2 separate regions of the Homo sapiens genome follow, and region 2 is linked to region 1. Evidence: fine-mapped expression QTL. A gene starts in region 1. The other region holds a variant in brackets. All regions are shown on one strand. Distances are from middle to middle.

Region 1 (15,434 bases):
TATATTATTGCAGGTAAAGTGTTACCATTTTGGCAATATCTTTTTTAATTCACAGTTTCTTGGGCAATTGATACTTAGAAGCATTAATATGGAGGTGGGTTTTTTTTTTAATTTTTCTAAATTGAAGTACTTTTTCTTCCCATGAAAAAGTAAGAACTCACATTTGTGATCTAAGTTGCAACTTAACAAATAGTATGTGTAAAGCATGCTGCGTGGATAACATTGCTTAGAAGGGGAGTTATGAAAAAGAGTTTAACAATAGTCATCTGATTTATTCAGAGTATTCCTGAACGCTGATTAAGAGATGATACTCTGAAGGGCAAAGCAGAACTCTTCTTATTTGGGCCAGGGACGTTGGCTCACACCTGTAATCCCAGCACTTTAGGAGGCCGAGGTGGGCGGATCACTTGAGGTCAGAAGTTCGAGACCAGCCTAGCCAACGTGGTGAAACTCCGTTTCTACCAAAAATACAAAAATTAGCTGGGCATGGTGGCACACGCCTATAATCCCAGCTACTTGGGAGGCTGAGGCAGGAGAATTGCTTGGACCCAGAAGGTGGAGGTTGCAGTGAGCCAAGATTGCACCACTGTACTCCAGCCTGGGCAACAGAGCAAGACTCCATCTCAAAAAAAAAAATTATTCTTATTTAGATGCCGTGTCTGTTTAGTTTGCAAGAATATTTATTGTCAACTCTTGAGTAACCCCTTTGAAATAAGTAACTTGGCTTATAAAAGCCTTTAAGTTTAGCTGTTTTAAAAAGGCATTATAGAGGAAAAATTTTATTTTTAAAAATGCAAAGCATTTTAGTCACGTTTGAGACTCTTTAATAAGTTGTTGACTTTTTTAAGTCATAGAAAAATGAATGTCATACATTTAATTCATTTAGGCAAAGGGCTCTCCAGACAGTAAAAGATGAAATCTCTCGATTATCCTACTCTAATAAGGATAAAATAAGGATAAGGGCCAGGCATGGAGGCCTAGCACTTTGGGAGGCTGAAGGGGGAGGATTGCTTGAGGCCAGGAGTTTAAGACCAGCCTGGGCAACACAGGCCATCTCTACAAAAAAACTAAAAGTCAAAAATTAGCTGGGCATGGTGGCATGTGCCTGCGGTGCCAGCTGCTCGGGAGGCTGAGGTGGGAGGATCACTTGAGCCCATGAGGTCAAGCCTGCAGTGAGCTATGATCATAGCACTGCACTCCAACGTGGGCGACAGAGCAAGCAAGATGCTGTCTCAAAAAAAAAAAAAAAAGACAGGGCGTGGGGTGAGAAGGCTTTTGGCTGCTCCTGACTTGTTTTGTTTTGTCTCTCCCCATGGAAATTGAGAATTAGGATTTTACCTGAAACTTGAAACTTTTTCATTGTGAGAATCACTAATCTTTGGCTTTGGATTGTGTCTTTGGGCGCAGGAGGAAGTGCTTGAAACCTCGTCAGCACCACAGAAAACTGCAGCTCCCTGCAGGACTGGAGAGTTCCAAAAGAGACCAGTCCACGTCCATGTCACACATTAACTTGCTGTTTTCACGCCGAGCGTCAGAATTCCCTGGCCCGCTGTCCGTCACCAGCCACGGCCGCCCCGAGGCCCCCGGCACGAAGGAACTGATGAGTGGAGTCCATTTGGAAATGATGTCTCCGGGCGGCGAAGGGGACCTGCACACCCCCATGCTCAAGCTCTCCTACAGCACCTCCCAGGAATTTAGCTCCCGGGAGGAGCTCCTCTCTTGCAAGGAAGAGGATAAAAGCCAGATCTCCTTTGATAACCTCACTCCAAGTGGGACGCTGGGGAAAGACTACCATAAGTCAGTGGAGGTTTTTCCCTTAAAGGCAAGAAAATCTATGGAAAGAGAAGGCTACGAGTCCTCGGGCAATGATGACTACAGGGGTAGTTACAACACCGTGCTCTCACAGCCTTTATTTGAAAAGCAGGACAGAGAAGGTCCAGCCTCCACGGGAAGCAAACTCACCATTCAGGAACATCTGTACCCCGCGCCTTCATCACCTGAGAAAGAACAGCTGCTGGACCGCAGACCCACTGAATGTATGATGTCGCGATCAGTAGATCACCTCGAGAGACCTACGTCCTTCCCACGGCCCGGCCAGTTAATCTGCTGCAGTTCTGTCGACCAGGTCAATGACAGCGTTTACAGGAAAGTACTGCCTGCCTTGGTCATCCCGGCTCATTATATGAAACTCCCCGGGGACCACTCCTATGTCAGCCAGCCCCTCGTCGTCCCGGCTGATCAGCAGCTTGAGATAGAAAGACTACAGGCTGAGCTGTCCAATCCCCATGCCGGGATCTTCCCACACCCGTCCTCACAGATCCAGCCCCAGCCCCTGTCTTCCCAGGCCATCTCTCAGCAGCACCTGCAGGATGCGGGCACCCGGGAGTGGAGCCCTCAGAACGCATCCATGTCGGAGTCTCTCTCCATCCCAGCTTCCCTGAACGACGCGGCTTTGGCTCAGATGAACAGTGAGGTGCAGCTCCTGACTGAAAAGGCCCTGATGGAGCTTGGGGGTGGGAAGCCGCTTCCGCACCCCCGGGCGTGGTTCGTCTCCTTGGATGGCAGGTCCAACGCTCACGTTAGACATTCATACATTGATCTCCAAAGAGCTGGAAGGAACGGAAGTAATGATGCCAGTTTGGACTCTGGCGTAGATATGAATGAACCAAAATCAGCCCGGAAGGGAAGGGGAGATGCTTTGTCTCTGCAGCAGAACTACCCGCCCGTCCAAGAGCACCAGCAGAAAGAGCCTCGAGCCCCAGACAGCACGGCCTACACGCAGCTCGTGTACCTGGATGACGTGGAACAGAGTGGTAGCGAATGTGGGACCACGGTCTGTACCCCCGAGGACAGTGCCCTGCGATGCTTGTTGGAGGGGTCGAGTCGGAGAAGTGGTGGCCAGCTGCCCAGCCTGCAGGAGGAGACGACCAGACGGACTGCGGATGCCCCCTCGGAGCCAGCAGCCAGCCCCCACCAGAGAAGATCTGCCCACGAGGAAGAGGAAGACGATGATGATGATGACCAAGGAGAAGACAAGAAAAGCCCCTGGCAGAAACGGGAGGAGAGGCCCCTGATGGCGTTTAACATTAAATGAGCTATCGCAGACCCACCTGACTGTGGAATATAAAATTGCCAAATATCCTTTCTCATGGAAGCGCGTACCCGTTCGTGGAGGAAACGGAACGGCAGCCCAGCCGTGGGACGGACGTGGACGTTTACTGCATTCCTGTTTGCCGTGTAAATGTTAGAAAGGAATTAAAGTTATTACTCGGAATAAAGGATGACTTTGGCGGATGTCGCCCCTGCAAGGAGGTGGCTGAAAGTGGTGTCCAGATGTCCTTCCGAGGACTCGGCGTATCCGCCACCAGGGACATTAAGAAACCGCACGTGATGTCGCTATGCTCTAACGATCACCTCAGTTCTCCCTCGGATTCTGGGAACAGATGAAACTTTTTGCATCGCTTGAGTCATTTTTATCACAATAATCCTACTGTGAAGCTGTCGTTGAGAACTTAGGTTGGCACGTAGCGTCTCAAGGTATGCGTTCTCTCAAAGGAAAGCTATGCATCGCTGCTTCGTTGTCTGATTTTGCTTAGATTTTGCTTTGGTTAGGTTGCGTTTTGGGGTTTGCCTTTTTTTGTTGTCGCTTAAATGCAATTTGGTTGTAAAGATTTGATTCCTTTGTGTTCATCTGTTCCGCTTCTCAGCGGTCCATCTCAGCGTCTCCCTTCAGGAACCGCTGAGTGTCCTCTCTTAACATCCAAGCCTTTTAATGAAATCGTACTGAAATCTGTATCAGCTAAGAGTCCTCCAATCCTGGTCCCATTAACTCCAAGTGCCTTTTTGACAGTGACAACAGACAGTCCCTCGCTTTTTGTTGTTGTTGGTTTTCTTAACCCCTTTAATGGAACTGCCTGGATTTTATACAGTTATTAAAGGATGTCTCTTTTGCTTTAAACTGCATGCTGCCAAGTGCCATTTGGGGTCAGCATCCTCGTTTCAACACAGTGTGCTCTCTAGTTATCATGTGTAACGTGGGTTCTGTTTAGCGAAGATAGACTAGAGGACACGTTAGAGATGCCCTTCCCTGCTCCATCCCTGTGGCACCATTATGGTTTTTTGGCTGTTTGTATATACGGTTACGTATTAACTCTGGAATCCTATGGGCTCATCTTGCTCACCCAATGTGGGAGTCTGGTTTGAGCAAGCGAGCTGAATGTGACTATTAAAAAAAATTTAAAAAAAAAAAAGAAAATCTTATGTACTATCCAAAAGTGCCAGAATGACTCTTCTGTGCATTCTTCTTAAAGAGCTGCTTGGTTATCCAAAAATGAAAATTCAAAATAAACTCTGAAGAAAAGGAAAACTGTCTTTGTGGTCATTTGAATTCATTCTGAGTCATTATCTGTTTCAAAGTTGTTATTAAGACTTTGTCAGGCCAAGCATGGTGACTCACACCTGTAATCCCAGCACTTTGGGAGGCCAAAGGAGGAGGATCACTTGAGCTCAGGATCACTTCAGCCCATCTCTGTGAAAAAAATTTTTTTAATTACCTGGTTATAGTGGCTCATGCCTGTAGTCCCCACTACTTGAGAGGCTGAGGTGGGAGGATGGTACTGCTGCACTCCAACCTGGGTAAGAGAGCAGATCCTGTCTCAAAAAAAAAAAAAAAAAAAAAAAAAAAAAAAAAAAAAGTCTTTGTCATTGTTTCCTTGGTGGCAGTCTGCAACGCAGTTGTCAGACTTGTATTTGGAGACCCACCACCTAGACACCTAGGAATTTCCTCTAGGGTTAAAATCTATAAAAATCCACCTTTGTCTGTAGTTTTGTTCAAGAACACCAAATAACATTTTGATGTGTTTCAGGTAAAGAGGGATGTCTGCACTTAACAAGAATCTGATGTTTTATGGTCAGTATTGATCCATCTTGGAAGAGCTTCAAGAAGATATCATTAGAATGACCAGAATCCTCCCAGATGTATAAAACTATTCATCAAAATAAAATCATTAATGGAGGTGTTGGGACATAACTGGCAGAAATAAATTAAGCCAGCTATGTTTACAGTCAACAAAATCAGTATTTGTGAATTCCATGCAGGCAAAGAACTAATCACAGTGGTTTTGATGATTTTCATTCTCAAGTGGTGGTGTTGCCTGTTTGGCTTTTAAGGGGGAAAATAGTTGAGCAAGTCCTTGACAGTGGGACAGCTAGCCAGATGGGAGCCTGGGGGCCTAAGGAGTGAGACGCCCTTTGCGCGGGAGTGGACATCTCACCAGTAAGTGGCAGGGGCATCCTTGCAGACCTGGCTAAGACTCCAGGGAGAAGGCGTTGGTCAGCTCCCCTGAAAAGAATAAGGAAGTTGCTCCTCCAGGAAAATCCAGGGCCAGACCTAGATGAGGAGGGACGAGGGAGGAAGTCCCGGAAGACCTCTCTGCTGTCATTGACCCCAGTCCTTTGCGGCTCTAAGGTTGCCGCCAATGGAATCACCTCCTTAAAACGTCAGTTTCTAGAAGAGCCTCATTTAATGCATGTTACCTGGGAAAGTCGGGTAGCACATTAACTGTAAGCGCTGATCCTGAGAGATCTGGCAGGAAGATGGGGGTGGAGAAGACTGCTTTGCTGACTCCTCCTTAGGTGAGACTCACCTGGATGGGCCCCGATGTATTAAGCAGCCAGCAGCAGTCACAGCATGCCGTGTGCCGAGGACAACAAGCAGGTGGGTTTGCAGAAGGGCAACTGGGTCGGCTGAAGATTTTTATCACATTTTAACAGTTGTCCTAACTGGGGCTCAGTGGTTCTCATTTTCTCAGGATGCCAACGCTGATCACTAGAGTGGGATTCTCTGAATGCAGCACCGTGGCCACAGACTTTACACATTTATCCTCTCTCTCCCCACGGAGGGTGGAAGGGTGAATATGTCACAGTATTCCAAATCAGTTACGTGGTCTGAAGGACGACAGCCATCAAAGGCATCTTGCTCCCGCCCCCTAGTGGTGAGTTTTCCCCACCTGTAACGGTTTAGTCCAGACACACAGGGCCACTCTGGGAAAGTAGGGGTGGGCGTGCACAGGGGTGAATCTGCCACTGGGTCTCTCCCCAAGGTGAGGTGGGTGGAGAGAAGGGGACTGAGGTTCCTGGAGTCTCTACCTGGAAACAATGTATTGGAAACAATCATTGCATTCAATCCTCAAAATCTTTCAAGGAAGGAATGTTTATTCTTCTTTGTTTTGCACTGAAGTTGAGGCTTAGTGGTTAAGTAATTGAGGTCACCCAGCTAGAAACAGTGGTGCACGGCTTAAACAGCCAGCTCTCTGGAAATGAATGCACTTAAATTATAAATGTCCCTGATAAAGGATGCATAGGACAGAACTTACAAATGGAATACATAATAATCTGTATAATGAAATACATAAGGCTGGGCGTGGCAGCTCAGGCCTGTAATCCCAGCACTTTGGGAGGCTGAGGTGAGTGGATCTCTTAAGGTCAGGAGTTCAAGACCAGCCTGGGCAACATGGTGAAACCCTGTCTCCACTAAAAATACAAAAATTAGCTGGGTGTGGTGGTGGGTGCCTGTAATCCTAGCTACTCGGGAGGCTGAGGCAGGAGAATTGCTTGAGCCCGGGAGGCAGAGGTTGCGGTGAGCCGAGATCACGCCACTGCACTCCAGCCTGGGCAACAAGAGCGAAGCTCCGTCTCAAAAAAAAAAAAAAGAAAAGAAAAGAAAAGAAAGTGTGTGCCCTAAGCTCTGCCAGGGGATACACAACATCATTTAAGTGATAGTGACCCTGTGCATTTGGAACTTTATTTAGGATAAACTAGCACAGACAAATGCAAAAACAAAGAGGCATCGCACCCAAGAAAATGAAACCAAAACCAAAAAGGAAGGAAACCAGAAAGCCACAGAATGGTACGTAGGCCACAAGCATGACAAACTCAGTGTGATTTCTTGTGTTCACCCTCTCACAGACATCGCTTATGCAGGTGTTTAGACCTAGAGGACCTCATAAAAATGAGTAAAGTTAGAAATGGGGGGTGATTTTTCAACCATATTGATATTCCACGATTTCTTGTTTGCTGCATTGACACCATAGTTAAAGCAAGTTGCAATTATGTCTTGGGGACTTTTATGACATCACAGAGAACTTGAAAAGGGCATGATGGTTGTCATGGTCCTTCAAACAGGAGAAGGCAGTGACAAGGAGAAAGGCAGTTGCTCTCATAGATCAGGGAGAAAGCCAGCTAAACTCCAGGCGAAATAGAAATTGCAAGTCTTCTCCTCCCCGCCAAAAAAAAAAAATGATTTTCAAAGCTGTAATTGTAAATATACACTAAAATACCTGGCAAATGTTTTTTCCATTCTTCGCAGCCATTGTGAGTTGTTTCAGGTTGGTATTTTGGTACCTTCAAAGTGGCTCATAATTCTCGCATTGCTAGGCTTTTGCACCTTAACAGGATGGGCAGGAATAGAAGAACCTGAAAGAGGCTTGGTGGTCTCACAGCAGAGGAAATTGAAGGCTGAAGTCACAAGTGTTGTGTTGACCTTTCCACATATGCAATGGGTGACCACACAGAGGTGGGCCTCATCTCCTGACACTCGGCCCAGTGTGCAGCCACCTCTGCATGCTGCTGCCCCATCTCACCTCACTGGCACCCTCTGCTATCTGTCTACAGTATGCATTCAGCACTCCATAATGAGGGTCTAAGGCATAAGTAAACCATGCTAATTATTAAAATCTAGGATTTGGAGAAGAAGCTCTGGGTGTCAGGCCTGGCTCTGACCAACAGACAGGTGACTCACTTCTGATGCTTTAGCAAGAGGTTGGGGGTATTTGCTCTCCTCACCTCTGGGTGAGTTGAATTCAAGTGAGACAATACATATCAAAGTTTTTGTAAGTTGTAAATTACAAAAACAGTTTATTTCTCTGAACTATTACTAGTATCTTACAGTTCCCTAATCTTGTTGCTCTAGTGTGACAATGGTCATTTTGGGGCTATATCAGCTGCTTCTCAGCTACTTTTTAAGGAAAATGGTAGACAAAACAGTGGCATCTCTTTTTCCCCATTCTATTACTTTTGTTTGTTTGTTTTTTTGAGACAGAGTCTTACTCTTTCACCCAGGCTGGAGTGCAGTGGCGCTACCTTGGCTCACTGAAACCTCTGCCTCCTGGGTTCAAGAAGTTCTCCTGCCTCTGCCTCCCTAGTAACTGGGACTACAGGCATGTACTACCATGGCTAACTTTTGTGTTTTTAGTAGAGATGGGGTTTCACCATTTTGATAGTTACTACTGAATGTCAATTTGATTGGATTGAAGGATACAAAGTATTGATCCTGGGCGTGTCTGTGAGGGTGTTGCCAAAGGAGATTAACATTTGAGTCAGTGGGCTGGGAGAGGCAGACCCACTCTTAATCTGGGTGGTCACCACCTAATCAGCTGCCAGCACAGCTAGAATACAAAGCAGGCAGAAAAATGTGAAAACAGAGACTGTCCTAGCCTCCCAGCCTCCATCTTTCTCCCGTGCTGGATGCTTCCTGCCCTCGAACATCAGGCTCCAAGTTCTTCAGTTTTGGAACTCGGACTGGCTCTCCTTGCTCCTCAGACTGCAGACGGCCTATTGTGGGACCTTATGATCATGTGAGTTAATAATAAACTCCCCTTTATATATACATATGTGTGTATATATGTATGTGCATGTGTGTGTGTGTATATATATATATTATTATATATAATATATATATTCCATTAGTTATATCCCTCTAGAGAACCCTAATACAACCATGTTGGCCAGGCAAGTCTCGAACTCCTGGCCTCAAGTAATCTGCCCACCTCGGTCTCCCAAAGTGCTGGGATTACAGGCGTGAGCCATGGTGCCCGGCCCCATCGTACTGCTTTCTGCAAGCTTCAGCTGAGTAATATCTCCTTTGCTCAAAGGGGATGTTTTGCCTGGTGTCTGAAGATAGCCAGTGAGCTCTGTGAAGGTGCAGCCTTCTTAAAGATTTGTCTGGAAACATGTGTTAGGACACTGTCTACAAGGCAATAATGTTAGGGTAAGTCCCCAATCACCATAATTTGCTACTGAAAGCAATACCTCTGTAAAACATGGCAGCCGTTCTTGAATTCTTGAATTGAGTTGCTCTATGGTAATAAGATAATGTGCATGTAACTATAGAACAGTGTTGCTCAAACCTGGGGTGTTAGGCCATTCCTGTGTTGCTGTAAAGGAATACCTGAGGCTGGGTGATTTATAAAGAAAACAGGTTTAACTGGCTATGGTTCTGCAGGCTGTACAGGAAGCATGGCACCAGCATCTACTTGGGGAGGCCTCAGGGAGTTTACAATCATGGCAGAAGGCAGAGCAGGAGCAGGCATCACACATGGCCAGAGTGGGAGCAAGAGAGGTGCCATAGTTTTAAACCAGATCTCACGTGGACTCACTCATCAGCAAGGGAACAGCACCAAGCCATTCATGAGAGGTACCCCTGTGATCCAAGCCCCTCCCACCAGGCCCACCTCCAACACTGGGGATCACATTTCAACATGAGATTTGGCGGGGACATGGATCCAAACCATGGATACATGTTAGCATCCCCTGGGAGCTGGAAAAAAAATATTAAAGCATTTGGGCCCCACCACAGACTGATTGAATTAGGATCTCTGTAGGTGAAACTGGTTTAAAAACAAAACAAACAAACAAAAACTCTCCCTAGCTGATTCTCATACACAGGCTTGTAGACCACTGCTTTAGAAACATTGAAGCTACTTTACAGCCTGGTAGCACCTTCCATTGGGTACCTCAGGGAATTATTCACTTTTCTCTTTGTTTCTGGGGTCGATTAACAGCTATACCCCAGATTTGCAGTTGGGGAAGCATTTATGTGAAATAGCATGTCAAGTTGGGCAGCAGTGCCTAACAGATTTCTCTCTTCCTGTTCACAATGGCCTGTTGAAAAACCGAAGGTGGACACACTGTGTCAACATGTCTTGGCTCTACCGTCCGTCCTCTTCCCAAGGTCCAGGTTATTCCTGCCATCTTGCCCGAGCAATTTCACATCACTGCCTGTTTGGGACTCCCACGTCCGTATCTGCATCCCAGGCCTGCCACTGAGTTCAAACTGCAGACTGAGCATCCTCAAGCACCTAAAACTCTATTTATTATCTTCATGTTGTCCCGTGAATTCCCTACTCCTCCGCAAATCAGGGAAACCAGTTCTCCTAGTTTTTGCCTATGTACTATCCCAATAAATGGCCTCACCATATAGTTTCCTTGGCCAGAAACCTCAGGGTCACCCTACAAACATCTGTCAACCTCACCCCCAAATCCAGGCAAGTTCTTTTGACTCCACTTGCTGTCAGGAAACAATATGAATTTTTTTTTTTTTTTTTTTGAGACGCAGTCTCGCTCTGTCGCCAGGCTGGAGTACAGTGGCGCGCTCCTGGCTCACTGCATCCTCCGCCTCCTGGGTTCAAGAGGTTCTTCTGCCTCAGCCTCCCAAGTAGCTGGGATTACAGGCACACGCCACCATGCCCGTCTAATTTTTGTATTTTTAGTAGAGATGGGGTTTCACCATGTTGGCCAGGCTGGTCTTGAACTCCTGACCTCGTGATCCGCCCGCCTCGGCCTCCCAAAGTGCTGGGATTACAGGTGTGAGCCACCGCGCCTGGCCAACAACATGAATGTTTTCATGTTTCTGTGTAGCTCAGTTTCCTGAGCAAAAGTTACTGGCAACCTAGTATTAAAAACTCTAGACAAATGTAACAGTTTAATTGAGCAAAGAACAATTCTCGAATCGGGCAGCCCCCTTTGTCATGCCAGACCCCTATTAATCTCAGTAGGGATGGCACCAGGTACAAGAGGCCAAAGACGAGATCCCGCACCAGCGAAGGAGACGTGGGTTTTATTGGGGGCTTACATACAGGGGAGAGAGTCCAGTGGCAGTGGGCCAAGCAGGAAAACTGCAAATCCTTGCAAAATGCATGCAGTTTAGATAGCATTTTCATTTTACACCCTCCCTCTAACAAATTCCACCTGGCAACCTTCATTTAACCCAAAACAAAGGGTCTCAATCCCCTGTACGACCTGTGTTCCATGGGCCAGGGTGGGGGATCAAATGTTTTTCATAGAAAAGGAATGGATCTCGGGGTGGGCTACTCCCAGATTCCCTAGCATGGAACTCTGAATACACATTCAGGTGTGCCCGCCCTACAGGGTCATTCTCAGAGTACGGTCAAGTTATCAGTGCCAGGTGCTCCTACCCTACTGCCTGAACCAGAATAGGCTGAGGGAGACTCCGGCACTGCCACCATGTCAGAGGCAAAGGAAAGTGACGTGAGGTCCAGAGATAGCCAAATTGCCTACTGCTTACCATTTCTCTCACTTGAAGGCAGTTTAAACAGTTGGCCCCTTTGATTGGCCAGAACTCGGTGATTGGTAAGGGCAGTTACCAGTCTGTTTGTACATCCCGTTATAGTTCCCTATGTGGGAGAAACCTTTAGGCCAAATTTACAAGGAGGCCGCTTTAGGCTAAACTTAATTTAACACTGGATTAAAGGATGAGGGAATATTAATCATTTTGGAAAACAGATCGTGAATTACTCTGGAGAGATTTGCGGGTTTATCTCTCTTGGAGCTGTGCCTTTGCATTCATTGATCTGCACTGGCATTTGCTGTAACACATAGGGCCTTCCCATTCTCTTCCCTATGACAATTTGTTTCCATTAGAAAGTTAGGATTTCTGGCTGGGCGCAGTGGCTCATGCCTGTAATCCCAACACTTTCGGAGGCCAAGGCGGGTTGATCACCTGAGGTCAGGAGTTTGAGACCAGCCTGGCCAACATGGTGAAACCCCGTTCTCTACTAAAAATACAAAAAAGGTTAGCCAGATGTTGTGGCACATGCCTGTAATCCCATCTACTCGGGAGACTGAGGCAGGAGAATCACTTGAACCTGGGAGGCAGAGGTTGCAGTGAGCTGAGATCGTGCCATTGCACTCCAGCCTGGGTGACAGAGCAAGACTGCATCTCAAAAAAAAAAAAAAAAAAAAAAACGTTAAGGTTTAGGGTTTCTCTCCAAGTCTCTAGAAGGGATGGGGGCAGCTATGATGTAGTTCCTATATAATCTCTGAAATTCATAATTTAGGGGTTTCTGTCTTTTAAATGCTATCCATTGAGGGCCCGAATGGAACAAAACAGAGAGACAGGAGTTCGCCTCCTTTTGTTTTTCTGCCTCACTGTTGAGCTGGGTGATCTCATCTCATCTTTTTTTGCCCTTGGACTGGGACTTAGCCCCATTGGCCCCCTGGTTCTCAGGCCTTCAGCCTGAGTTACACCACCAGCTTTCTTGGGTCTCAGTTTGCAAATGGCAGATCGTGGGACTTCACAAACACCATCATCTTGTAAGCCCATTCCTCCTAATCTTCTTTTATATACACACCAATTGGTTCTGTTTCTCTGGAAAACCTGATTAATAGACCTGAGGAATGAAACTGTAACCTCTCAGTGGGTTCTTCTTGCCTGCTGCCCAGATGCAGCCAATTTATCAAGGCAGGGGAATTGTAATGGAGGAAGAGTTTTACCCACATAGAGCTGGCTGAATGGGAAACCAGGGTTTTATCATTATTCATATCAGCCTCCCTGAAAATTTGGAGGCTAGGATTTTTCAAGGATAGTTTGGCAATCAAGGGAACGGGTGCTGCTGATTGGTTGGGGGTGCAATCATAGGGGTGTGGGGAATGGTCATTGTGAGCACTGAGTCTGCTTCTGGGTGTGGCCCCAGGACTGGTTGGTGGGTCCAGGTGAAGCCATTGGTCAGTCATCAGAAATGCAAAAACCTGAAAAAGGCATCTCAAAAGGGCAATCTTAAATTCTATGATACGATGCTATTTGCAGGAGTGATTGGGGAAGTTGTACATCTTGTGGCCTCCGGAACAATGGCTGGTAACCATTTCTGTCTACACCCTAGCAGAACTCAGCTTCCTATCAGTCTCCTAACCTGATTGTCTTTCATTAGCTTTACAAAGGTGCTTTAGTTTGGGGAAAGGGCTGTTATCATTGAAACTGTAAACTAAGTCTCTCCCAAAGTTAGCTTGGCCCAAACCCAGGAATAACTATGGGCAGCTTGGAAGCTAAAAGCAAAATGGGGGTTGGTTGGATCAGATCTCTTTCACTGTCATCATTTCCTGTTATAGTTTTTGCCAAGGCAGGTTCAAAACCAGGGAACCAACTGTAAAAGACAAAGTATAATAATAACTCCCTAAAGAGTTTCATTTTACACACCACTTTCATAATACATTCCTTTTTTGTTGAGACACAGTCTTGCTCTGTCACCCAGGCTGGTGGGCAGTGGCACAATCTCGGCTCACTGCAACCTCCCACGTTCAAGTGATTCTCCTGCCTCAGCCTCCCAAGTAGCTGAGACTACAGGCGTGTGCCACCATGCCTGGCTAATTTTTGTATTTTTAGTAGAGACAGAGTTTCACCACGTTGGCCGGGCTGGTCTCAATCTCCTGGCCCCAGGTGATCTGCCAGCCTCGGCCTCCCAAAGTGCTGGGATTACAGCCCCAGCGTAAGCCACCACGTGAGCCACCACGCCCGGCCTCATATTACATTATTGTGTTATGATTCTCACAGCTACCCTGCTGTATAGCTAAGGCAGGTGATGTTAATCCACACTTGCATTCAAAGACACTGAAATAAATTCTTACCAAAACAGTGGCGAAGACCCAGGATTTGCACTGAAACTCACATGCTGTGTTCAGAAGTGCAGTATTCTCTCTACCCCACACAGCTGCCTTAGAGAGATGAATTCCAGGGCTGGGAACCACGGCTAACACTTAGTACCTCCCACATTTCCAGAAGGGCTCTAAACGTGTCCTGTGGTCCTTACAGTCAACTGGTGAGGTTATTTCTTCTGTCATTTCACAGACAAATAAAGAAGCAGAGTAACTTCATTTATGAACGGTGCTCTCTGCCACTTTGCAATGCTTATTCAATAGAGCTGCTTTCATTATGGAAAGCTAAAAGCTTTGTTTCCCAGAATGCTAACCATTTTATAAACAGTATAACATAATTATAAATGTCTTCCAGAAACACAGTAATAGTAATGTTAAATGATCCTGCGAGCCTCAGAAAAATAACTTGATAGCTACTCTCCGAGGTTGGTTATTTTGGAGTCCTAGTACATTAGTCACTCTTCAAAGGCCAGAGAAGGTAAGAGAGAAGGTTAAAATGAGATCAGATGCCCAGCAGTGGGAAATTTCACATTTGAGATGATGAGACCCATAAATGGGGCATAATGATGGCAAATAAAAAATATCTACTTGGAAACAGAGAAAAGCTCAAATTGCATTGAAGATCAGTTACATTTTTCCTGGACAGAGGACAGAAAAATTTTCTTCTTTTTCTTGAGTAAGTGAAAAGGAATATAAGGTCTTTCTCAGGGATGAGGTTTGCCTTTTCTGGATTAAAGGGTAAAAGCTGAAGAGGCACATCTTCAGACAAGTAGCAATAGAGAACAGAGACAATTCTTGGCCATAGAGCATTTTTGAGGATCTCATATGAAAGATAGTCATTTTTTAAAGATGTCATTTTTCTATAATACTGCAGCTAGCTCCCCTCAGATCATCACCGGGATAAGACAGCATCAATGGATATGTTGCCCAGGCTGGTCTCAAAATCCTGGCCTCAAGCAACCTCCCACCTCAGCCTCCCAAATTGCTGGAATGACAGGTGTGAGCCACCACACCTGGCTGCAAGTTGAATTTCTTTGGATGTCTATTCTTTGTGCCTGAAACTTCAGATTGACGTACTTAGAAAATATAGGGCTGAACTGACCCCCATATAACATCTTGACTTTTTCAACCAAACTTTAATTATTTCAACTGAATAATTTAAAAAAAAATTTTACCCTTGGTGACAGCTGTCAAATGATGGAATATCTTGTGTGAATTAGAATCTCTTGATTTTCAGGAATACCATCATAATAACAATGATGTTGTGATTTTTTTAACTTGAGAATGACCTTTGGAATAATTAAAAAATGCCTTGGTATGACTCAATCCTTTTCCTCCCTCTGTCCTCTGAGGCTTTACCACTGACCTGGAATTCAGGATTCCAGAAATCCTTGGTGAATGAAGTCACCACATTCTTTGTGAAATTATTCACAAGTGTGATCATTATCAGTTATCTGTTTCCTTTGATAAGGTTACTCCCAATTGTTTCAATGTGTGACTCTATAGATAAAATCGTATTATAGTTTTGTTATGATTCATATCGCTAGTATGCTGATAGTCTAGATAATAACAGAGTGATGATATTGTTGTGGCTTCTTTATTCCAAGTAATATCAAGCCCCAATAAAAAAGTTTGGTTTTTCTTTTCTGAGACAGGGTCTGGCTCTGTCACCCAGGCTGGAGGGCAGGGGAGTGATCACAGCTCACTGC
Region 2 (15,434 bases), 32 kb before region 1:
CTGTCCTTCTAGGGCTTTCACAGTGCACGTAGGTATTAGTTATCAACTGCTGTGTAACACCACCCTAAAAGTTAGCTGCTTAAAACAACAGTGAGCTCCAGTATCTCAGAGTTTCTGGGGGTCAGGAATCCAGGTACAGCCGAGCTGGGTGGTAGGGCTCAGAGTCTCTTACAAGGCGGCTGTCAAGCTGTGAGTCAAGGCTGTGGTCCTCTCCAGCAGTGTTCAGCTGGGGCTAATGAGTGTGACTCACAGGGCTGAAGGCAGACCTCACTTCCTTGCCGGCTGTTGACCAGAGGCCTTACCTCCTTACCACGTGGGACCCTCCATAGAGCTGCTTACTACACGGTAGTTTGCTTTCCCCTGAGCAAATGATCCAAGAGTAAATAAAAATGATATAGTAGGCTGGGTGTGGTGGCTGACACCTGTAATCCCAGCACTTTGGGAGGCTGAGGCGGGTGGTTCACTTGAGGCCAAGAGTCTGAGACCAGCCTTTTAAAAGCCCAAGTGCCCAGATTGAGGTCATGGTCTTTTGTAACCTAATCCCAAAAGCAGCATACCATCATTTCTTTCCATTAGGCTGTTGGTCACACAGACCCACACTGGTATAGACCAGCACTGAGAGTAGACTATACAGGGGAGTGAATACCAGGAGGCAGGGGTCACTTGGGGCTGGCTATCTGAGAGGTTGCCTTCTACAAAGCATATTTAGCAGAAATGAGATCATGTGCTGGGTACTGTTTGGGTGCAGTGGCTCACACCTGAAATCCCAACACTTTGGGAGGCTGAGGCGGGAGGATTGCTTGAGCCCAGGAATTCAAAGTCACAGTGAGTGATGTCGCTATGATCGAGCCACTGCACCTCCTAGGCAACAGAACGAGACCACTCACTCACTCAATCAACCAATAATATATACATAAAAATACATTTGTACAGCATGAACATCTTTCCATAGCATCATTATTCTGCCATGTCAATTTTAATAAGTCCATAGTATTCCACCCTGTGGATATATCATACTTCACTTTGGTTCATCAATCCCCTGCAATTAGAAAAAAATGTTACTATTCTAACCAATGCTGTAGAAAATATCTTTCTAGCTAAATCTTTATGCACAGCCTTGGTTATTTCCTTAGGATGACATTTTAGAAGAATTGCTGAGTTACAAAATGTACAAAATTCTAAAACTTTTAAAACATATTTCCAGATTTCCCTCCAGACAGTTGTATTGGTTTGCACTCATGATACCAGCCCACGAGCATGTGCTCGGGCTGAGGGTCTTGGCAGCGTGGGGCCTCTTACCCCCCTTTGCTTCCTAGTGCCCTGAAAGTCAAGCTTGAAAATATCAATTTGCTGCTGGGCACGGTGGCTCACACCTATAATCCCAGCACTTTGGGAGGCAAGGCGGGCAGATCACTTGTGGTCAGGAGTTTGAGACCAACCTGGCCAACATGGTGAAACCCTATCTCTACTAAAAATACAAAAAATTAGCCAGCTGTGGTGGTACATGTCCATAGTCCCAGCTACTTGGGAGGCTAAGTTGGGAGGATCCCTTGAACCTGGGAGGCAGAGGTTGCAGTGAGCCAAGATCGCATCACTGCACTCCAGCCTGGATGACAGAGCAAGACTGTCTCGAAAAAAGAAAATACCAGTTTTCAAATAAGCCAGTTCAGAATTTAAAACTGTTAGACCATGCATGAAGATAATTGGGAGATTTTTGATATCAGTATATTTTCAAAGATATCTAATTCCTCGAATCAGTTAAAACAGAGTTCTAGGAATTATATTTTAAAAGAAACGCCTGTTGGGCTTTTGGAGGGGATTTTTGTTTTGTCTTATTTTTACTTTCCAAATAATTAATAGAGACACTGTAATTATTTGTGTGGAATGCATTGATTTTACCAGCCACAGTAAACTTGATATTGTTAAGTGGATTGTGATGCTGTCTGTTCACATATCCTGCAGTAAGCAAGACGGGCACTTCATTGATGGTGTGTGTTCTCTGAGAGCCTGATAATCTGTTCACATATCCTGCAGTAAGCGAGACGGGCACTTTATTGATGGTGTGTGTTCTCTGTGAGCCTGATAATTTGGGGGGCATCAAGGTCATGGTGGGGACCTGAGGTACACTGTGCCTCCAGGAGGGAGTAGCCTGAGGGATGTGTGACCAAGAGTCTCTGAAGAATGCCGGAATTCTAAAGGGAGGAAGAAAATGGATAAAGAAAAACACAGAGGAAGTGGGCAAGAGAATGGAAAGAGCTTTGAGTTTGTGTTTTGTTTCCTGAAAACCTGGGTTCTGCTACTTATAAAACTGTGAGTCCCACCTTGGGCAAATTACTTACCTCTATTTGCATTTGTAAGAGATATGAATATACACCCCCTTGTATGGTCTGCCTGTCCCCTGTAGCCCTCCCAGGGGGCGCTGAAGCGCACCCAGGTCAATGCACTGAGAAGCAGCGGAGAGTGTGGTTAAGAGCAGGGAGTCTGGGGGGCACAGTGGTGTGGAATGCCAGCTCTGCCACCCACTGGCTGTGTGGCCCTGGCCAAGTTACTTAGCCTTTCTGATCTAGTTTCTTCCACTGTGAAATGGCAATAATAATAGTACCCACTGTTGTTATAATGAGTGTATTAGGATTCTCTAAAGAAACAGAGCCAATAGGAGATATATGTATATTTGGAGAGATTGATTTTAAGGAATGGCTCACACAATTGGGAAGGCTGGCAAGTCCAAAATTGCAAGGCAGGCTGATGAGATGAGGCCCTCCCTCACTGTGGAGAGTGATCTGCTTCACTCAAAGTCAACAGATTGGGCCGGGCACCATGGCTCATGCCTGTAATACCAGCACTTTGGGAGGCCAAGACAGGCAGATCACCTGAGGTCAAGAGTTTGAGACCAGCCTAGCCAATATGGTGAAACCCCATCTTTACTAAAAATACAAAAAATTAGCTGGGCGTGGTGGTGCATGCCTATAATCCCAGCTACGCCAGAGGCTGAGGCAGGAGAATCACTTAAACCCAGGATGTGGAGGTTGAGGTGGGCCAAGATAGCGTCCCCACACTCCAGCTTGGATGACAGAGTGAGACACCGTCTCAAAAAATAAATAAATAAATAAGAAAAAAAAAAGCAAAGTCAACTGGCTGAACAGTTTATCTCTTCTAAACAAAATACCTCCCCAGTCACATCTGGACATATTTAACCACATTTCTGGGGACTGTGGCCTAGCCATGTTGTCAGACAAAATTAGTCATCACAAAAGTAAATGACAGCTTGTCACTTTCACGAGCACAGCCGATCCTTTCCAGTCTCCTCCCCGGCCTCATCCTGAGCACATTGTGCACGTTGCAATGGTCCTATCAGCTTGAACGGCACGGTATGCGGGTGCCAGTTACTCCCTGTGCCCTCCCTGAGTCTGTGCGGGGACCTGTTACTCCCTGCACCCTCACCGAGTCTGTGCAGGTACCAGCCACTCCCTGCACCTTCACCAAGTCTGTGTGGGTACCAGTTACTCCCTATGCCCTCACCAAGTCTATTTATTCTGAATGCTTGTGATCAATAACAGTTTCTGGCATAATGCTAGGTACCCAACTAAAATGTCTGTTGAATGGTTGAATCACATGAGAATAATTTTAGGGTTTTTTGTTTTCTTTTGTTTTTAAGAGACAGGGTCTCCCTCTGTCACCCAGGCTAGAGTGCAATGGTGTGATCATAGCTCACTACAGTCTCTATCTCAAGAGCTGAAGCAATCCTCCCACCTCAGCCCCCTGAAGAACTGGGAGTACAAGGGTGGTCACCAGGCCTAGCTAATTTGGGGGGCTTTTTTGAGACGGAGTCTCACTCTGTCGCCCAAGCTGGCGTGCTGTGGCAAGATCTCAGCTCACTACAACCTCCGCCTCCCAGGTTCAAGTGATTCTAGTGCCTCAGCCTCCCAAGTAGCTGGGATTACAGGTGCCCACCACCACCCCAGGCTAATTTTTGTATTTTTTTAGTAAAGATGGGGTTTCACTATGTTGCCTAGGTGGTCTCGAACTCCTGAGCTCAAGTGATCCACCCACCTCAGCTTCCCACAGTCGTGGGATGACAGGCGTGAGCTACCATGTCTAGCCAATTTAGATATCTTTAAAAGGCAATTTAAGATACTCTGATATGCCTGTAATCCCAGCACTTTGGGAGGCCAAGGTGGGCAGATCACGAGGTTAGGAGATCAAGACCATCCTGGCTAACACGGTGAAACCTCGTCTCTACTAAAAATACAAAAAATTAGCCGGGTGTGGTGGCGGGCGCCTGTAGTCCCAGCTACTCAGGAGGCTGAGACAGGAGAATGGCGTAAGTAAACCCGGGAGGCAGAGCTTGCGGTGAGCTGCTCAGTCAATGTATACATTGACTGTATACATAGAATTTACCTTTATGTATATATGTATATGTACACGTTATAAAAGGATGATGTTTAAGCTCTTGTTTAGAGGGAGGACAGTTCTATTGGATTTTTTTTCTATCTTGGAGCCTCCATCCCTGCTGTTTATTTTTTGCTTCTCATTTTTGCCTTCTCTTTTTTAATGAGTATATTTGAATATGGAGGAATAAGGCTGGGGCTCCTAATATAAGGAAGCCTTCCCTAGGGATTCCTGTATGGGTTGTGTGCACTGTAACTATATGGCACAGGTGTATGAAAGCAGCATCCTTGCTTTCCTCGGTGGACTTTATATACAGTTCACAAATAACAAACTTAAAGAAGTTTTTGATGTCCATGGCAGATGGAACTATCTCTGCATCCTAATCTCCAGGCCCTGTGGATATTACCTTATACGGTCAAGGGACTTGGTGGAAGTGATGAAGAATCTGGAGATGGGGTGATTCTCATGGACTTTCTGGGTGGGCCCACGGCCATCACAAGGGCCCTTATGAGCAGGATGCAAGAGGAGCCAGAATCAGATTAGGAGACGGCAGTGTGAGGATGGGAGCGCAGGCCGGAGCCATGCACTTTGGAAATGCGAGAAGGGGACCCAAGCCAAGGAATACAGGCACCCACTGGAAGCCAAAATCAGCAAGCAAGGGATTCTCCCTTCTGAGCCTCCAGGAGAAACCGGCCCTGTGGACTCCTTGACTTGAGACCAGAGAAACTGGTTTTGGACCTCTGACCTCCAGGAGTATAAGAAAGTAAATCTGTGCTGTTTTAAGACCCTATTATTTGTGGTAATGTTTTTTATAGCAGCAATAGGAAATGAATACAATACAGAAATTGGTGAAAACAGAGGTGTGTGCATTGTTAGGAAGCCTCTGAAATATAAGTTAGCCCATTCTCTGTTTCCTCTCTGAAAAAATAACCATGACAGTACATTGGGAATCTTCATTGTGAAGTTGACCTATTTCCGCTTCCTTTTTTTTTTGAGACGGAGTCCTGCACTGTCAGCCAGACTGGCATGCAGTGGTGCAGTCACAGATCACTGCAGCCTCGACCTCCCAAGCTCAAGCAATCCTCCCACCTCAGCCCCCTGAGTAGCTGGGACGACAGGCACACACCACCACACCTGGCTAATTTGTTTTATTGTTTATTTTCCGTAGACACAAGGTCTCACCATGTTGCCCGGGCTGGTCTCAAATTCCTGGCCTCAAGTGATCCATCTCAGCCTCCCAAAGAGCTGGGATTATAGGCGTGAGCCAACGCGCCCGGCCGAAATGGTCTTTTTAACTTCACATTTACTATGAAAAATGTAACTGCCAAATTCCTGGTTGTAACAGATTGCATGTATGCAGAAAAAAGCCAACGTTTGTGGATAGTCATTCAAAAATAACCAAATGAATTAAAATGTTTTCTGAAAACTTTAAGATGGACATTTCAAAGAAACCATATGTTTTTTCACTTATTATACTCAATAGAAGCCTGCATATTTCATAAGACTTTTGTTGCTATTACATTAATTGTAATATTATCTAAGTAGAAATTAAAATATTTTAGTTAAATAAAAAATCTAAAGACGGTATTAGATCAGGAAAAAAATGGGGAATGGGCCAACACATCTTAAGCACATAAAACAATTTAATAATTAGCTGCTATTTATGATTACAGTAATCGATCATCTCAAATAGTTTAATACTTTAAATTATCTATTTTTGAGGTAAATCAAAATAACTGCCAATTCCAAATTGTTTAACAGCCAGAAATGGCACAGATAGCAACTTGTGAATCTATTAATAATTTTTCATCTAAATTGGGTTTGGCCAACTGTGGCCTGAAAGCTAAGAATCATTTTTACATTTTTAAATGATTAAAGAAAAAAATCAAATGGGGGAATGTTGATCAAGGGGTACAAAGTTTTAGTTCTTCAGGATGATTAAGCTCCAGAGACTTAATGCAAAGCCTGCTAACTGTTGTTAATAGGACTGTACTGTATACTTAAAATTTACTAAGAGGGTGGATTCAAAGTGTTCTCACCACCAAGAGAAAGAAGATGAAAAAACAATGGTAACTGTAAAGTGATGGATATGTTAATTAGCTTGATGTATATATCAAAACATCAGGTCAGACATCTTAAGTACATAAAATTTTTGTTTTTCAACTGTACGTCAATAAATATGGGGGAAATGAATCAAAAGGAGAATATCTCATGGGTCGAAAATTACATGAAATTTATACGTAAGCATCCCTAAATAAAGTTTCACTGGAACCTTGCCAGGCCCATCTGCTGGCATATTGTCTGTGAGTGCTTTTGCACTACAACGCAGGGTTGAATCATTGCAACAGAAACTTATATCCCCACAAACCAAAAATATTTACTATCTGTCCTCTTACAGAAAAAAATAAAAAAATTTAAAAAAAATTGTGACCTCTGGTCTAAATGCCTTCCAGAAGTTCTTTCCATTCTAATATTACAGTGCCAGTGTATTCCACACTCTACAGGAGCAAACTGGGGTGCCCAGACAGCCCCAATGTCCATATTTCCTGTTAGCTGACAGCTCCCCTGTATTTTGCCAGAGTTGACAACTGATACTCAGAGTGACAGCACCTTCATTGTAGGGCCAGACCTCAAACTCTGTAAAGAAAGATGAAATTATTTTATGGTTTGATGGGACTTCTGTTCAAATGATACAATCACATGGTAGTTTTTGTTTGTTTGTGTTTGTTTGTTTGTTTGTTTGTTTGTTTAAAGAAGGGGTCCTGCTCTGTCACCCAGGCTGCAGTGCAATGGTACAATCGGAGCTAGAACTCCTGGGCTCAGGAGATCCTCCTACCTCAGCTTCCTGAGTAGCTGGTACGACAGGTGTGTGCCAGCATGCCCAGCTAATTTGTAAATTTTTTTTTTGTAGAGATAGGGTCTTGCTGTGTTGCCCAGACTGGTCTCAGACTCCTGCCCTCAAGTGATCCTCCCAACTCAGCCTCCCAAGTCACTGGGATTACAACGACTGTGAGCCACCACCCTGCCTCAAAATCACGTTTTAACACTAACTCAGTATATCCATGTTTTAACTCTAACTCACACACTTTAATCCTTGACTGCCAGGAAATTGAAAGTTTACTCTTAGGAGAGAGAACTAGAGATGCTCTCTTTCAAACCCCGTGAGAGTGGGATCAATTTTTGATGCTGCCGTTTTTCACAGTTGTCTTTTAATTTTTTTCTTTTGGAACAAGCAAAGAATTTCCCATTCTTGAAATTGGCATCTTCATATTTCAACCTATATATTCATTAGAAGGTGATCAACTAGATTAACACCATCTTAGAATACAAATAACATTGAATTTGTTTAGCATGTTACAACAGCATGAGTTGGCTAATTGCTATATGGACCCTCAATAAAAATAATTTTATGTGTGTGTGTGTGAGATGGTGTCTCGCTCTGTCACCCAGGCTGGAGTACAGTAGCACAATCTCAGCTCACCGCAACCTCTGCCTCCTGGGTTCAAGTGATTCTCTGGCCTCAGCCTCCCAGCTAGCTGGGACTACAGGTGTGTGCCACCACACCAGGCTAATTTTTGTATTTTTAGTAGAGATGGGGTTTCACCATGTTGACCAGGCTGGTCTCGAACTCCCGACCTCAAGTGATCCGCCTCTGCCTCGGCCTCCCAAAGTGCTGGGATTACAGGCATGAGCTACCACGCCCAGCCTAAAATAAATTTTTTAAGAAGCACGACTTGCATATATAAGTTGAGCATCTCAAATCCAAAAATCCAAGGTTTGAAATGCCCCAAAATCCAAAACTTTTTAAGGTCCATCATGATACTCAAAGGTCATGCCCAAAGGCAATGCTCACTGGAGCATTTTGGATTTTGGATTTTCAGATTAAGTATGTTCAGCAGGTAAGTATAATGCAAATATTCCAAAATCCAAAACACTTCTGGTCCCAAGCATCTTGGATAAAGGATATTCCACCCATACTGGAATCGAGACTTTTGTCACATTGACATGTTTTGTTAAAGCTATTTTGTTAAAATGCTGTGATTCGTAGAGCGAAGGAGCACTCTATTTAGTGGATCTCTTTTCCTTAAAGAATCAGCGGAATATGTAATGATCCAATTGTGC[C/T]CTCTCTGTGTCCCGGGTGTCAAGATGTATGTGAGGGGAATGGGTTAAAATGAATTTGTAGCCAGGCACAGTGGCTTACACCTGTAATCCCAGCACTTTGGGAGGCCAAGGTGGGCAGATCACTTGAGGTCAAGAGTTTGAGGCCAGCCTGGTCAACATAGTGAAACCCCATCTCTACTAAAAATACAAAAATTAGCTGGAGCCGGGTGTGGTGGTGGGTGCCTCTAATCCCAGCTTCTTGGGAGGCTGAGAATCCCTTGAACCTGGGAAGTGGAGGTTGCAGTGAGCCAGGATTGTACCATTGCACTCCAGCCTGGGCGACAGAGTGAGACTGTCTCAAAAAAAAATAAAAATAAAAATAAATAAATAAATAAAGTGAATATTTATTGTGCAGTGGCCAATTTGACCTTTGAAAGAAGCAGTTTTCCTTCCCATGTCTGTCAAAGGAAGTTTTGTTAGTCATAGCGAATGCCTCTTAGCTGAGCCTTTCTGGACAGTAAGAGATGATTATGTCAGCTCTATTTTACAGACGTTTACCCTTTCTTTATCCTGTAACTGGGGCAGCAGATGGCTGTCTGATGTACAGGTTGTCAGACGGACATCTGACTTGTTGCCCTGGGGAATGGTCACAGGCAAACCAGGTCAGTGGTTTGAATTTAAAGCGATGGACATCAAGTGGCAAAAAGAATAAATAAAGATTTACGGATCCTGTATTTGATAAGTTTCTCCTGTTTAATGGCAACCTGGATTATATGATTTGGATACTCTCATTCTAATGAGATGATAGAAATAAAAGCATATTCTAAGAGTGAAGCTACATTGTAGAATCCAGTTTTCACTGCCTCTTCAAAACACAGCCTGAGAGTGTGTGGGGGTTGCTATAGAAATGGTGGTTACTGAACCAGCCTCTTACCACGTACGATGCATTCGTGTCAGGCTCTCAGGAATACCCACTCACAATTGGCCTGTAGTAGATTCGTCTGCACTTCAGACGGTGAATGTTACGGCTATGACAAGCTCATTTAATTAGTCCTTTTACCTAAGTGACGGACAACTTGCCCTTGAAGGTGGAGACTCATTTAAAACACAGATCTAAGATTGTTTTTCAGGTTCATTGGGTTTTTAATTGGGGGTGGGGGGGAAGGGCGGCAAAGAGTGGGAGTTCTTAAAGCACAAAATTATGTTTACAACGTAAAGAAAATGAAACTATTATTGAACATGGAAATGATGAGCTTTGGGTGATAATGTCATGTGAATGCAGGCTCATCAATTGTAGCGAAGGCACCTCTCTGGTAGGGGATATTGATCAAGAGGGAGTCTGGGCTGTATGTGGGATATCTGCACCTTCCTTTCAGTTTTGCCGCGAACCTAAATCTGCTCTTTAAAAAATAGTCTTCAGTGAAATCATTATTACAATATTAGCTTATCTTTGTCTCTATATATCACAAGCCACATGACTAGGTGAAGTAACCCAGATTGGAATACTGAGGTGGGTGATTGGATTATAGGGATAAACAGTACTACACTGTGCCCCCAAACATTAGAATGAAAGAAGGGAGTTCATTTCTTTACCAAGTCTGTGCGTAGATGTGTGACGTGATTTTAGAACCTTGGGCATCATCTTTTATTTTTTGAAAAAGAATAGATGCCGTAGTTCAGGGCATTCAGCAAAGGAGGAATTCAACTTACCTAAGGTAATATCAACATATCCCTAAGAAAGCTGTTATTGGAAATAGGCCTTTTTACAGTGGAAATATTCAGAGTCAAGGCTATGGCTTAGAAATAAAGAAATAACTCTCAGGAAAAGTGTCTGTACTTTCCCAGATGTCAAAATCACTCTTAGGGGTGAATGGGGCTTTAATGAGACCGGTAGGGGAAAAGGGGGTAATGTACCTGCAAAAAAAAAAAGCGATTGAAGTGATCACAGATAGCAAAGAACCCGGAGAGCATGGGACTTGTTTGGGTGTGATGACAGTTCAGTGAAAACTTTGTCTCACCAAAGATCTTGGCAGCCAGGCGGTCAGTTGTGACTTTTCATGGAGATGCCAGTTGGTGTCTGTTGCCACTGTGGACTCAGCATCGCAGTGGCTCTGTACCACTCCTGTTCTCCAATGGAGTGCAGGAAGGCCGGGTAGCACTGGTCCTGCCCATGGGAGAACAACCAAGCTGTGATCTCAGAACATCGACATTTGTTTTTCAGTGTTGCCTAGCAACTCAAAAAACAATCTTGTATTATCAATCCATTCCTAGGAATCATTAAGCCTTTTGTGTTTGTCTCCCCCCAAAATGAGAACTTTCATAAAATAATAGCATCACATTTGTTCTAGTATGATCGGGTTCAGGGGGCACTTTTGTTTAAAAACCCCATTCTTAGGGACTTAGGTCTCTTAACGTATCATTTTATGTAGAACTAGAATTTCCCGTCTTGGTATAGCCTGCTTTTGTGATCTTGGAGTTGTAGAGGTTTTATTTTACACTTCATTCTTAGTTACCACTTATGGAGTATTCACTTTGTGGATTATCTGTGGCAAATTTGTGTCTTCCTGCGGGCTTTCCCCATCACCCAGGAGCCTCAAGGCCCTCTTAGTTTGCTGCTATTTGGCCTGGATTTTCTTTTTCAAGTCAGAGTCTCACTCTGCCTCCCAGGTTCAAGCGGTTCTCCTGCCTCAGCCTCCCAAGTAGCTAGGACTACAGGCAAGTGCCACCACACCCAGCATATTTTTGTATTTTTAGTGGAGATGGGGGTATCACCATGTTGGCCAGCGTGGTCTCAAACTTCTGGCCTCAAGTGATCCTCCTGCCTCAGCCTCCCAAAGTGCTGGGATTACAGGCAGTGAGCCACCACGCCCAGTCTGGCCTGGATTTTAAGGACAGCATCTAACACAATCATTCTAATATTAACCTGGGTGAAAAAGAACTAGGAAAGTAAAGCCACTATATTTCAGAATTCAGTACTTTTAAGTATCACCTGGTTTCAGTTGCCTCCACTTGAGTGGGTAATTAGAAGGTAGAATATTATTGATAGATGTGAATATTGCACTGGATGAGACACAGCTGATAGCATTCGTGAACAGGATAGAGGCAGTGTGCAGCCCAGCCACCGAGACGGCTTGGTCTTGAATGCCGGCTCCTCCTCTGGTGACTCGTTGTGTGGTCTTGAGCAAGTCCTTTTTCGTCTCTGGGCTTCAGTTTTCTCCTCTATAAAATGGGGATCATAATAGCCCCAGCCCCTCCCTCATAGAATTGCTGTGAGTGGAGAGTGCCTACCACAGAGCCTGGCGCTTGGAAAACCCTCCGTATGTGTTTGCCGCTCTTATCATCATCATCGCTGCTATTATTTAGCCCATATGCAGTGTGTGATTTTTTTTTTTTTTTTGGAAGCATGATATAAAAGGACAGGTACAGGAAAGCCTTACTGTTTTTAAATTTAACATCCCAGTCTCACCCAAGGTTGCTATTTAGCTGGAATGGCCCTGCCATCCAGTCTGATTGGTCGGGGCCCATACCTGACCAGCTGTTCCATATTTGGAAACATCATTGTTTGGGATTGAACTTCCAAATAACTTTAAAGTTCACAATAAGTGGTGCCTTTTAATTTGGGTACAGCAGGAACGTAAGTCTCTGATGTCCAAAGCGAGTGTTCGTCTAGTGTGTGAGCCTAATGTGCTCCCTGGCTCTGCTCACTCCTATCTCCTGGCTGAACACCGTGGCTCTTTCCAGCAACCTGTGTTATCCTCACCTTGTAGGTGAGGACCCCGAGGATGGGTACTGGGGAGAGATGAAGGTTCCAGGTATCCAAGGTTTCCCCAGTGAGATTCAGCGTTTCCCACTGAAGCCTGTAGATCCAGACCGCTTCTTTGAGGCCTGGGAATCATCTGCAAGGATTTTCAAATTTGGAGTTTGGGGTTTGATCATGATCTTTTACAACTTAACATGAAAATATTCTGCATCATCTGAATTCAATACAGAATTTAAAACGATCACATAATGTTATTGCCTGAGTCTGCATTTATGAACACACTGTTGGATAGAATAGGACAAATGAGAATGAACCATGGTAAATGTAATATACAAATGATACAACACCAGCATAATAAGGACAGGTGGAATTAAAGTATGTTGAGAGATGGGAAGTTTTACAGTTCAGTTTGAGAAAGGTAGTGGAAGAATTGAATCATAGTCATGCCAAGCTCGAAAGAAGCCCCACCTAGCCATGGATGTCATGTGTATGTATGTTGCAAGTGACAAGTTCAGTTCAGTAATATTGAGGCAGGAGAATTGGGTCTGAAGGTAGAGAACCTAAGGCCGACTCAGCTGACTGGATATCAGAGGTTTTTTTTTTTTTTTTTTTTTTTTTTTTGAGACAGAGTCTCGCTCTGTCTCCCAGGCTGGAGTGCAGTGGCGCAATCTCGGCCCACTGCAACCTCTGCCTCCCAGGTTCAAGCGATTCTCCTGTCTCAGCCTCCCAAGTAGCTGGTATTGTAGGCGCCTGCCCAGCTAATTTTTGTATTTTTAGTAGAGACGAGGTTTGGCCATATTGGCCAGGCCGATCTCAAACTCCTGTCCTCAGGTAATCGGCCCTCCTGGACCTCCCAAAGTGCAGAGATTACAGGCGTGAGACACCACGCCCGGCATAGGGGCTACTTTTTAACCCCTCCTTTTTCTGCCTGGCAGTTGGAAAATGAAAAGTACCTCTGATCGGCCCGGCACGGTGGCTCACGCCTGTAATCCCAGCACTCTGGGGGGCCGAGGCAGGCGGATCACGAGGTCAGGAGATCGAGACCATCCTGGCTAACACAGTGAAACCCCGTCTCTACTAAAAATACAAAAAATAAATAAAAATTAGCCGGGCGTGGTGGTGGGTGCCTGTAGTCCCAGCTACTCGGGAGGCAGAGGCAAGAGAATGGCGTGAACCCCAGAGGCAGAGCTTGCAGTGAGCCAAGATCGCGCCACTGCACTTCAGCCTGGGCGACAGAGCAAGACTCCGTCTCAAAAAAAAAAAAAGAAAAGTACATCTGATCGGTCCCCTCCTGCAGCCAATCAGACTGGTCGCTAGGCTACTTTTCCCCTCCCGTAACCAAAGAGACTGCTCATGGGCTACTAGAGTGAGCCAATACGAAACTGCTATAGGGTATTTAAACCTCAGAACATTCTGTAACCAATGTTCCCGAGCCTCTTGCTGTAGCCTCTGCCAGTCTGTGGAGTGTACTCTCGTTTAAAATAAATTTCTGCTTTGGCTGCTTTGCTTGTGCGTTTTGTCCAATTCTTTGTTCAAAACGCCAAGAACCTGGGCAGCTACCCTCAACGGGTAACAATATGTCATCAGGTACACCATTAAGTTGATGTTTTTAATTCGAAATTTATTTTGAAACTGTAGCTTTGTTTCTTGTTTCTTTCGTAAGTTTGTTTTGGTTTTATACTTTTGTATGAGCTATAATCTCTTTTATGTTAGCACTCACTTAACACATGATTTTTTAAAAGAAGATCAACACTTTGTATGTTTTTTTTTTCCTTTCGAATGTAGTTTTGTGCCTTCATCACGCCTGAAACTTCTCAAGTTCTGTAAATGTTAGGAGAGGGCCCGTCCTTGGGCAAATTACTAATGTCTCTGGACCTAATGCTTCTGGCCTCAAATATGAGATCTGTAAAATCTCCCTTCCAAGGTTGCATAAGACCTAAGTGTGATCATTTACGTAAAGCACCTAGTACACTCCAGCCATGTATCACATTTTTGATGTCGTGGTTCTTTTTTTTTTTTGGTGAGACGGAGTCTTGCTCTGTCACCAGGCTGGAGTGCAGTGGCACTATCTCAGCTCACTGCAACCTCTGACTCCCTGGTTCAAGCGATTCTCCTGCCTCAGCCTCCCGAATAGCTGGGATTATAGGCATGTGCCACCATGCCCAGCTACTTTTTGTATTTTTAGTAGAGATGGGGTTTCACCACATTGGCCACGATGGTCTCCATCTCCTGACCTCATGATCCACCCACCTCGGCCTCCCAAAGTGCTGGGATTACAGGCGTGAGCCACCACACCAGGCCATCGTGGTTCTTTTTGCCCCTTCCTTTGAATCACCCCTTTAAAATTATTTTTACGCACACACATGCACACACACACACACACACACACACACACACACACCCTGAATACACCCGGCATGTGCAGAATGTCCTTCACTAGAAGCTTCCACAGAAGTGTCTGGCTTGTCCCTGCAGTACGCCATGTACACGTATTTGTATCTGGCAGCCCAGCCATTTCCAGTATGCAGTTTGAAGTTTTCCTAAACTGAAGGGGAAGAAAAATGGGATCACAACTTAGATCCTTTAGGGAAAAAAAATGTTTTTTTGTTTTTGTTTTTGTTTTTTTTTGAGACGGAGTCTTGCTCTGTCACCCAGGCTGGAGTGTAGTGGTGTGATCTCCACTCACTGCAAGCTCCGCCTCCCGGGTTCACACCATTTTCCTGCCTCAGCCTCCTGAGTAGCTGGGACTACAGGCACCGGCCACCACGCCAAGCTAATTTTTTGTATTTTTTAGTAGAAACGGGGTTTCACCGTGTTAGCCAGGATGGTCTCGATCTCCTGACCTCGTGATCTGCCTGCCTCAGCCTCCCAAAGTGCTGGGATTACAGGCGTGAGCCACTGCCCCTGGCCTGAAAAAACAATGTTTTTATCTATTCATTCTTAGCTGAGCTTATCCATTAGAAAAACAGGTATTCCTATAAACCAACATTTTACACCATTATTCCCAAAGCAACCCTGGAGGTGGGGGACTCCCGTCTTTATCAGAAAGGAACTTTAGCTCAGTAGAGTTGAGTGTTTCCCACACTCATGGGACATCCTAGGGAAGGGGGAGACACAAAACGTGATTTCTTCAGACTCCAAATCCCCTTTCCCAGTTTATCAGATTTTTGTGGATTCCCGCTTC

Which allele goes with the higher level. Alleles are on the strand shown, and positions count from the first base shown. SD is a standard deviation of normalised expression in the study named.
As copies of C replace T in region 2, the expression in spinal cord of the gene that starts at base 7,422 in region 1 goes up (moderate effect, 0.52 SD a copy in GTEx).

The links. PIP is the estimated chance that this variant, and not a neighbour inherited with it, causes the effect.
Region 2: its variant is fine-mapped to the expression of FAM171A1-AS1 in spinal cord (GTEx, PIP above 0.99). The same link has a PIP of 0.9 or more in cerebellar hemisphere.

Annotation. Positions count from the first base shown.
Region 1 is chr10:15,200,575-15,216,008 of GRCh38, reverse strand. FAM171A1-AS1 (FAM171A1 antisense RNA 1) reads right to left here and starts at 7,422. Exons shown (of 3, transcript XR_007062068.1): 1 at 7,338-7,422. FAM171A1 (family with sequence similarity 171 member A1) reads left to right here. Exons shown (of 8, transcript NM_001010924.2): 7 at 1-13; 8 at 1,408-4,366. The coding sequence ends at 3,094. LOC105376434 (a long non-coding RNA gene) reads left to right here and starts at 8,609. Exons shown (of 4, transcript XR_930699.2): 1 at 8,609-8,633. It overlaps LOC107984211 (a long non-coding RNA gene), which reads left to right and starts at 4,672. Exons shown (of 3, transcript XR_001747379.2): 1 at 4,672-5,716; 2 at 5,811-5,993; 3 at 6,810-7,752. RefSeq lists a silencer at 5,894-5,943 and an enhancer at 14,440-15,434.
Region 2 is chr10:15,232,739-15,248,172 of GRCh38, reverse strand. All of the region lies in intron 5 of FAM171A1 (family with sequence similarity 171 member A1), which reads left to right. FAM171A1-AS1 (FAM171A1 antisense RNA 1) reads right to left here. Exons shown (of 3, transcript XR_007062068.1): 2 at 10,509-10,654; 3 at 6,934-7,026. Among named protein-coding and RNA genes, the nearest start is that of FAM171A1-AS1, 32 kb to the right of the region's middle. The variant C/T (reference allele first, on the strand shown) is at 8,512.